Regions from separate parts of the Homo sapiens genome. Here regions 1 and 3 are each reported to be linked to region 2. Evidence: microRNA targets listed by miRTarBase, many of them from high-throughput screens and not tested one by one. Region 2 holds a microRNA gene; each other region holds the end of a gene's coding sequence.
Evidence for each region. Region 2 holds the annotated microRNA hsa-miR-654-3p (UAUGUCUGCUGACCAUCACCUU, at 1,871-1,892, shown strand). A microRNA usually pairs through its seed, bases 2 to 8, with sites in the 3' UTR of a target mRNA and lowers its output. Matches are read on the target gene's strand: a 7mer-m8 pairs with bases 2 to 8, a 7mer-A1 pairs with bases 2 to 7 and ends in A, and an 8mer does both.

Region 1: miRTarBase lists TFDP2 as a target of hsa-miR-654-3p. The part of its 3' UTR that is shown has no 7-base or 8-base seed match.
Region 3: the mRNA of EXT1 is a reported target of hsa-miR-654-3p. Seed matches in the 3' UTR shown: 7mer-m8 at 2,693-2,699.

Annotation. Positions count from the first base shown.
Region 1 is chr3:141,949,975-141,953,233 of GRCh38, forward strand. TFDP2 (transcription factor Dp-2) reads right to left here. Exons shown (of 13, transcript NM_001178139.2): 12 at 2,937-3,042; 13 at 1-2,722. The coding sequence ends at 2,539. Among named protein-coding and RNA genes, the nearest start is that of ATP1B3, 75 kb to the left of the region's middle.
Region 2 is chr14:101,038,399-101,041,657 of GRCh38, forward strand. It overlaps MIR654 (microRNA 654), which reads left to right and starts at 1,821; the gene lies at 1,821-1,901. It overlaps MIR376C (microRNA 376c), which reads left to right and starts at 1,292; the gene lies at 1,292-1,357. MIR376A2 (microRNA 376a-2) reads left to right here and starts at 1,671; the gene lies at 1,671-1,750. It overlaps MIR376B (microRNA 376b), which reads left to right and starts at 2,038; the gene lies at 2,038-2,137. It also overlaps MIR376A1 and MIR300.
Region 3 is chr8:117,796,620-117,799,861 of GRCh38, forward strand. EXT1 (exostosin glycosyltransferase 1) reads right to left here. Exons shown (of 11, transcript NM_000127.3): 11 at 1-3,242. The coding sequence ends at 3,093. Among named protein-coding and RNA genes, the nearest start is that of SNORD168, 120 kb to the right of the region's middle.

The DNA of each region.
Region 1 (3,259 bases), not on the chromosome of region 2:
TTTTTGTATTTTTGTAGAGACAGGGTTTTGTCATGTTGCCCAGGCTGGTCTTGAACTCCTGAGCTCAAGCAATGTGCCCGCCTCGGCCTCCCAAAGTGCTACGATTACAGGCGAGAGGCACTGCACCCAGCCCATGGTTTCCTAACACTGCCTCACTTTGATCTTGTGTGAAATTGTGACTCAGTGCTGAGCTTTAGACCCAGATAAATGTTGAGGGGGAATACAGAAGAGAATTGACCTTTCTGAACAGCTCAACCTAGTTTCTAAAGGCAAGATTTTACTCCAGCGACATGTACTGGTGACCATGATGTCACTCTGTGAGCTGGCCTCACCAGTAACCCAAACACAACGCTGAGGAAGGAGACCATTTCCCACCAACAGCACACACCTATGGCTGGGGTGGCCAATGATGGGGCACCAATAAGGATAAGAGTCTTTGGCGGCTTTCTTTTTTTGAGCCCATATTTTATCAATTTAAAGCATGAGAGCAGCAGAGATGGAGAGTAGAGAAAAAAACAGGTTTCCCAAGAACTCTGGCAAGAATGTTGCTACTTGGTGAAGGAATGGTTATCATTAGTGCACCTGTCTTAAATCCTGAAATGCATCTTGGGACCTGCAGTTCAATATTTTGAAGACTACAAAGGTAGCAGTGGCTGTTGGCCTCTCCAGGTCCCTGCTGGGTCCCAGAGATGAGAAAGGGTGGAGTTAGTAAAAGAGGAGGCTGCCCCTTAAAGGACAGTTTGGTTTGGAGGGAAATCCCAATCCGTGCAGCTGAAAGATTCCCTGCAGGCCCCTGGGGACCTGCTGTCACCTCCCCAGTGTTCCTGACTGGTCTGAGAGGTGTGCTCCAGAACCCACGATAAGACCGAGTTCTCTAGAAACTGCCTCTATCTCTGAGTCTGTACTATGGCTTATTTCTGACAGAATGAAACTTTTGTATCAAAGGAGCTTCAGCTAAAGTTGAATGTTTTTCTTTCTCAGTTTTTATGGCCTTATTAAACATGTTTAGCTAGCCAAAGCTTCCTCCTCCTCACCATGCTCAGTGTTAGCATGGTGGTGAGGCTATAAAGAGGCACCACAGGAAGGAGCCTGCACTTCCCCCATGGGATTTAAAAAAGAACCAATTTGGGCCATGCTTGGTGCATCTAGCATAATCTTGGGACAAATCCACATGATTCAGGTCAAAGTTTTGGAGTTAATTCTCCCATTATTATTTGCTCCTTTCCAAAGCCTTAATGTGAAATTCAGTCAGGGTCTGGCCATGGTGGCAGGTGTCCCTACACTCTTTCATTCAGAGAAGGAGCAGCTGTGAATACACCACTGCAGTATTTCTAATGACATCTTGAGCCATAAACAACATAACTGCACTACCATATATCCAGGCAGTAGGAGTGTTCAACGTTTTCTAGTGTTTCTGTGAAACACTAAATATTGGATTAGTTTGAAATGCAATTGACCCCAGGAGTAGGCTCAATAAGGTCATTCTGATTAATGAAAATGTGAAAAAAGGTGACATGTACAAGGAAACACTGCTGTTCATATTCTTGAAATAGACTTTTCTTTAAGACAAAAGTAATGACATTTGGTTCATTTTCACAAATTGCACACTGGGTGAGATCATACAATTACTGCAGGGAACTGTAGGCAAGCAATTTGGTCATAGGAATTTGTTTCTTTGTCTTGTTTTAAATGAAAAAGCTATATGAAATGCATAGCTTTGATTAACCTAAAGATACAGTTTCCTTCTTTGTAAAACTCCAGATTTAGGATGCTGGCAAAGGCAGTGCTGGCAAAGTATTTAATGCACATGGAAATGCTATTCTATTTTGGCTTCCAGAAGTAGCCCTAGTAAATTCTATGCACCAATGCATTGGCTAATAATAATTTCAGTTTTACTATAAATTATCTAAATGTCACTTAAGTACTTAAGAAGTAGCGCTCGCTCCTTTCTAGAAGCTGTCTAAGGCAGCTGATGCGTAAAGCACCTCATCTAGACCTCCAACTAGTTCAGCAGTTCAATCTGTGCCCCTCAGCCACAGGACTGCCCTCAGTATCCCTCACTACACAGCTCCCCTCTCCTGGGGACTTTTCATGTTCATTTCTGCCTTGTCAAAGGCAGTCCAGGCAAGGAAGAGAAACGTCAGAAACACGATCGTCAAGGACTGCTCCGTGTAGCAATCTCAATTCTAAGAATAATTACATGGGTGTGAGGAACACAAAAATCCCACCTCACAGAAGATAAATGAGTTGCACTCACACTGCCAACTCTTCAGGGATTATCCCCACTATCTCCTCAGAAAGCATGCTTTCTTTGTTATATCATCTACTGCTCTGTTGGCCAGACTTTCATTCACACTATGTTAACTTTCATCTCAATCATCTCAGCCTTCATGTGATTTGCTTATTGTGTTTCTCTAGTTTTCACTGAACACACAGTGCAAACAAAGGCAAAGACTGAAGCAATCATTTCAAAAACAAGAGCTCACACTACAAACACACATGAGCATCACATATTGAAACGTAGGCTTTCTCTTGTCTTTATTCTGGGGAGGAGGAATCCTCCTCATCATCTTCCTCATCTTCATCATTGAACGAACAGGGGGTCTCGCCTCGGGACTCGGAGCAGTGAGAGGCCGCACTGCTGGACTGGTGACTGTTTGGGGCCAGGAACTGCCCAGTTGCTAAGGCCACTTCTGCATCCAAGCATAACCCTTGGTTTACACTAGCAAACAATTAAAAACACACAGGCTCATTAATGTGGTATAAACAGTTTTGTAAAACATAGGAATAAAAACAGGAAGGAGGTGCCATTGGTGAGATCTGCCACAAACCTGCTCAGCAGGACCTGTGCTGGCAGTAACATGACCCCGGCTCACCCCTACACAGACAGTCAGGGCTCTGGGGTTTGCCTTTCTAACCCTGAAAAAAATACGTACCTTGACTGGGGTAAGGTGGCACCAGTGGTCAGGTCTAAATTTGAAACTGATTGGGTAGAGTTCAGAAGTAGTCCCTGATTTAACCAAGAAGGTCCTGTGGAGATATCTAAAGGAAAAAATGAGAACAAAAAATGTCGGTCCTGCAAGTTCTGTGGCTGCTGTTGTTACAGTCTGAGGAAAGCACAGAAAAGCAAGAGCTAAGCTTATTCTTCATGACAGCTAGACAATTCTCTTGCTGTGACAAGAACCCAGGTTTCTTCATCTTCTTGGAAGAAAAAAAAATTTCTAGAACATAAGAGCAGGAAAAAAAAAATACGGGAAGG
Region 2 (3,259 bases):
TGATGGTGGTGGTACTGGTGGTGTTGGTGGTGGTGGTGTTGGTGGTGGTGGTGTTGGTGGTGGTGGTTGTGATGGTGGTGGTGGTGGTGGTATTGGTGGTATTGGTGGTGGTGGTGGTGGTGGTGGTACTGATGGTGGTGGTGGTGTTGGTGGTGGTGGTGTTGGTGGTGGTGGTGGTGGTGGTGGTGGTACTGGTGGTGGTGGTGGTGGTGGTGTTGGTGGTGGTGGTGTTGGTGGTGTTGGTGGTGGTGGTGGTGGTGGTGGTGGAGGGTGGTGGTGGTAGGGGCTGGTGAGCATCATGTTTTGCTACCTCTCTCAGTTGTATTTAAAGAGACATTGTTTTTGACCTGTTTGCCTATTCCTCAGTCTGTCACACCAACATGACCAGTCCTGCCGATTGAAACTTTCTGGACACAAGCTTCAGTCTCTGGAAGATTCTTGGGTGTCCTTCTCCCTCCAAGGTATGTGAAGGATGCTCCAGCCCACAGTTACATGACATTGGTCATTAGGTGCCTTGGGAGGGCTTCATGGAGGCGATGTGACTTTAGGAACCTGACAGGCTTATTTTCTTTTTGTTTTTGATATTTTTCGAATTCAAAGCATAGAATCCCTACTTTGCCTGCTTTACTTGTGGCAAATTTTTGATGTACATTCACTTTTTTTTTTTTTTTTTTTCAGAATTAAATGCTACTTTGGAAACGCTCTTGACCATGAAGCCTCCATTAGGGAAGAGACATTAGGGTTACCCCCACCCAGACGAGTGACAGCAGGGCAGACCCCAAACTTACGTTTGCCTGCATAGGAGTTCCATCTCTGGATGTGAAGAGGCCAGGGGTGGGCCCTGCGCTTCCCACGTGGGACTCGCAAAGTGCTCACCTGCTTCTGTTACCTTCTGTCTTTCATGAATCATGTTTGCGTTTGTGCTCTCCAGGGCTGTTCCCACTTTTCCCATCTAAAAGGTGGATGTTCCTTCTATGCTTACAGGATTTATGGTGAATCATAGAGGAAAATCCGCATTTTCAGTATCTAAGGCTGCTTTTAAAACATTTCTGAACATTTCTGAGAGGAAGGTTAGCTCCCTCCCCCATGCGGAGAGTGATGGAAGGTGAATCCCAGAACCTAAGCTCTTGTTAGCAAGGTCTGTCCTGGGACATGCGTCCTCCGCAGGGCCCATGTCACTGCCGCTAGCCCGGGAGGCCCCTGCCGACTGCACCTATCCTGTGCTGTCTTTAATTTTGATAGATTGTGCTTAGGTTCATGCTTTCCAGGACTCAATCCTTCTTTGGTATTTAAAAGGTGGATATTCCTTCTATGTTTATGTTATTTATGGTTAAACATAGAGGAAATTCCACGTTTTCAGTATCAAATGCTGCTTGGAAACATTCCTGGACTGAAACCACCATCAGGGAAGAGACAATAAAGTCCCCCCCCCCACTCCAGGGTAAGTGGAAAGTCGGTGGACCTCAGAACATGTGCTGAATTCGTGCCATATGTCTGCGGACCACCCACCCGCCTTGAGGAGACCCCTCTCGCAAGCTGCCCGCTCGGCCAAGCGGCTGGGCTCCGTCGTCATTTTCTCCATGAGGCCGAATGCTCTCCTCTGTGCTATGTTACTTTTGTGTTTGATGGATTGTACTTAGGTTCGTGCTTTCCGGGATGAAACCTTCTTTGGTATTTAAAAGGTAGATTTTCCTTCTATGGTTACGTGTTTGATGGTTAATCATAGAGGAAAATCCACGTTTTCAGTATCAAATGCTGCCTTGGGATCATGGCTGGACTGAAGCCACCATCAGGGACGTGAGGTGGGGCTGAGCCCTCCAGGGTAAGTGGAAAGATGGTGGGCCGCAGAACATGTGCTGAGTTCGTGCCATATGTCTGCTGACCATCACCTTTAGAAGCCCCCTTTCGCTGAGGAGCCAGCTTGGTGCACAGGCTGTGGTGTGTTGTCACAGCTATGCTACGGGACTGAAAACGGTTGCTTTACTGTCTTGCTTCCATTTTCCATGAACTGTGTTCAGATTTGTCCTTTCCAGAGCCCAGTCCTTCTTTGGTATTTAAAACGTGGATATTCCTTCTATGTTTACGTGATTCCTGGTTAATCATAGAGGAAAATCCATGTTTTCAGTATCAAATGCTGCTTTGGAAATGTTTCTGGAAGAGACCGTAGGGCCTGAGTAGGTGCAAAGATGGTAGGCCGCACGTCGTATCTGAATGAACGGGGTATGCCCGAGAACCATCTCGAGACGCCAACTTGGTGAAGATTAAATTGTGGGTCTCGTGGTGCCAGTTCTTCCCTGGAAGCTCGTCTGCCTCATGTGACTTTCTTTTCTGATGACTCAAGCACAGGTGCACGCTTTCCTGGATGGAATCCTTCTTTGGTATTTAAAAGGTAGATTCTCCTTCTATGAGTACATTATTTATGATTAATCATAGAGGAAAATCCACGTTTTCAGTATCAAATGCTGCTTTGAAAACCTCGGAGGACGTGAAGTCGCCATGGAAGAGGAGATGTTATCTGTACCCCTCCTGGGTACAGGACGGACAGACACAGAATTGTACTTTGTATGAAATACGCCGTCAGCTTCTCTGCTGTTTGCTCACTGCCCTTGGTGCACACATAATGTGTTGTTACAAGGCTGTGTTCTCAGTATTGCCTCATTGACCTTGAATGAAGTTTGTTCTCTGTATGTTTACCATGATTGCAATGCATTTTCTGGAATGAACCTCTTTTACTGTGACTAGTTGTACCTTAGAGAATACCTGAGTGGGCTGTCAATTTCAGGAAGGGGCACTGCTTCAGGGGCTATGGAAGGAATAGATGTGTGATTCACCCACGGGCCTGCACTTCACACCTCGGTGTGCTGCTCTCACCATGCAGATCCCATCTGTGTCTCTAAGGCTTGCTCCTGGAGCTGGTGGCAACTTAGTCACAGAGGAAATGGCCTTCCTGTCACTGCCATCATTTGCTACTTGAAGAGAGGTAATCCTTCACGCATTTGCTTTACTTGCAATGATTATACAAGGGCAGACTCTCTCTGGGGAGCAAATCCTGCCTGGGAAGCCTTCTTGGGAACAAGGCTGACTCCAGCAACCTGTTAGATGGCCAGGATAGCCCTGGGGTGTGGATGGTTGACCACAGGGCATGTGCCTCTGTCTTGCTGTTTGTGACCTGGTTCTCTGACCCTCCTCATCTCATGCTTCCTTCCAAGAACTTTCTGGAAGAGATGCTGGCTTTGGAGATGATATAGGGTTTTCTCTT
Region 3 (3,242 bases), not on the chromosome of region 2:
ACTGTAATGCACATAAGATTCCAGTAACAAGCTTTCCCTTTTTTTTTGAAGCATCTATCTGAAAGTGTGTTGATACGACCAGGTAGGCCCACCTAGCTATGCTATCTTTTGTGGTATGACTATCGTGATTATTTCATGGATTTTTCTCTACAGTCTCAATTTTGAGCCATTTTGCTAGCTTCAACAAAGGTGATATGTATTAATGTATTTGTAAGCTTTGATATTTATAACACTTTCATATAAATAAATACACAGCCAGCTTTTAAAAAATTACTTTTAAGATCCTGTGTCTTAATGTGGAGCTGGGAAAAGATGCTGTGTGGAAATCCATAAGTGGCTGAGTCCTCTTTGGAATTTCTGCAAGCAATTCATTACGTGGTTGGCACTGTACTCTCAGCCCTTGGCTTCTCTCCAATGCAGCACATGTTAGCCCACTTAGGGACCCCTAGTTATCATTAAAGTTGACCAGGAGATAATTCCTGACACCCTACAGAGATGGCTATGATTTGTCAACTTGTTGCAATGCAATACAACTCTTTCCTAACTGAATTAAAATTACATATTACTGTCGAGCTTCACTGATTTGTTAAGCATTGTTCTATTCCCAGCCTTATATTCCAAATGGGAGAAGAACACGCTAGCTCACATCCCAAAGAGATTTGCTCAGAGAATGACATAAAATGAAACTGTGGAGATTTAAAGTGGATGAAAGGTGTGTTATATCCTGTTCTTATTTATAATTACCATTTTTCTTCACATAACACATGTTGTTTGTGGAGGATATGTGTTGTGAGCTTGGTGACAGGTCAATCTGGCAAAGCAGGTCCTTGAATCCACTTGTGTGACTGACTGGTACAATTAGGGACATTGCTTTGCAAGCCAATATGACCACCTAAGTTTCAAGTTGGTTTTGGGGTCATTGAACAAAATATCGCATTTATTTTTTGGTAAAGGAGAAACAAGAATAATTTGCCAATCCTGAAAAAAATAATTTAAATACAAATTCACAAAGGCCAAATGAATAAAGATTAACTGCTAATCTTTTAACTTGCTGAGAAGTGCAGCTTAAATGACATGAAACCTGTAAGACCAAACATTTTATAGAAAAGACACAAGTGCAAGCACCATGGACCTAAGAATTATTTTTCAACAAATGCCTAAGAGATAATCACATCTACTTAGGGGAAAATGTCACATGTTTGAGAATGGACTATGGATGGGTCCAATTAGATGAGAGAGGTATTTAGGGAGCTGTTCTGAGTCATGAGGCTGAGGAGAAAATCCTCTCTTTAATTGAATTTCACTGTCTACGCACCTCTCAAAACACCATCTGGATATGTGGGCTCTACTCCTTGTTCTGCAGCTAGGTAGCCTGTTGAGTCACTTCTCTGGACTTCCACAAACACTTTCACTCCTGTTTACAGCACCATCCCCGTGCTATCATTACAAGCTCCTCTTCCTCTCCCAGATGTCTACAAAGAAAGGATGAGGTAAAGTCCAATGGACTTACGGTTTCCACTGACCTAAGATGGCCACTTGAAATTATCAGAACAAAATTCTCTGATGAACTTTTCTTCTAAAACAAAACTGAAAATAAATGGAAAAGAAATATGAAATGTATGAGAGTTTGAGGGAGGGACTCTAAAGTGCTTATTGTTTATTCAGCATAATACATGGTCAAACTCAATAATGTCTTTCTCTTCCCTGTTTTCTCTGGCCTCTTCCAAGTAGAAGAAAGCATTTAATATCAGAAGTCTCCATTTTTCATAACAGAGTTAGGGATATGTTTTTTTTTTCAGTTTATACTTGGAGTTTAACAATAATCATAAGCCCAAGATAGCATTTTCAGGGATAGAAATGTTCTTTTTAACAAGAAGCACAACTAAACTTTTCCACAGATTTAAAAATTAAAAGTAAATGAAACTATATTCACATTTGTTGTTGATTATTTTGTTTGCCAGATTCTTGCTCAAAACAATGTTTGACCAAAAATGGCATTAGGGTCCCAATGGCGAGACATCTCCTCAGTTACTTTGCAGCAATCCTCTTGTTCATTGGTGTGAATTTCTACCTTATTACCCCTTTTTCTTTCTCAAAAGAGAAACTCTGAAACTTGAGATTCTCACAAACATTAAAGAGTTCATCTTGTAAATAATCTGTTCTCCCCAATATACTCATTATTCCTTGGCTTCTAAACCAAAGCCTCTTCCCAGTGCTACGCAGACTTAGGTCAATGGTTGAATCTATAACCGTGCCCCCAACCCCTGCAAGTATTGGGTTACTGTTGTGGGTCTGTATTTCCATCTCACTAACATGCTGGTGGGTTATCTGGATAGTTCTTTGTGCAAACTGAACATTTCTTAATTATACTAGTGTTTTCTTGGTACTAATTCCCCCCACCCCCCCAATGAAAAACGATTATCATATATATCTATCTCAAACATAGAGATTTCAGTTAGAACTGCCTACCTGGAAGTCGTAATACTTTCTTTCATGCAGCGACATTTTAGAGATAAAAGTTCAAGTGGATTTGAAGATTCGAAGTGGAAAACAATTTGCACTGGCAAAGTTGAATAATGAAGTTACAACTTATGCTCAGTTATTTCTTGATAATGGGTAGAGTGACTTATTGTGTTTTCCACGAAGTTTGAGCTTTTGAAACTGCAGGGCACCCTACATGGCCATGACAATGATGTCTGTGGGAAAAGGAATAGCAGCTTTGAAATATTCACAACCAACACAATTTTGATTAAACAAAGAACTCTGGTTTTTAATAGTTTTGATCATTAAAAAAGTTTAAACCTGCATAGCAATCATTTCAAAAATAATTATTTAATGTTCCATAATTAAACTGTACACAACCTAGTCTTGGGACACAGAAGCCAGTGAGGTGAGTTTGGAGCAGTCTGGTGCAGTCCCAGGAGCCAGGAGTTGAGTTCTCATTGGCCTTTTTTTTTTTGTCATTCTGCTCATCTAAGTTTTTGGATAGTTGGCACAATCTGGCTCTGCTGATGAGTGGATCTGCACTGGGAAGAGAGAGCAGCTTGACCCCCATCCCTTCTTGCTTCCCCTCCCCCACTCAGCCGGATTCCTCAAAGTCGCTCAATGTCTCGGTATTTCTTCCTCAAAATAGAGACCTGGTCTTTAAAGAGGACGGGGTCGAGCCTCATCTGAGAGTGGATCAGCGGCATGTAGCCAAACCAGCTGGCAAACGTATTCATGCAGCTCTGTCGCTGGGCAAA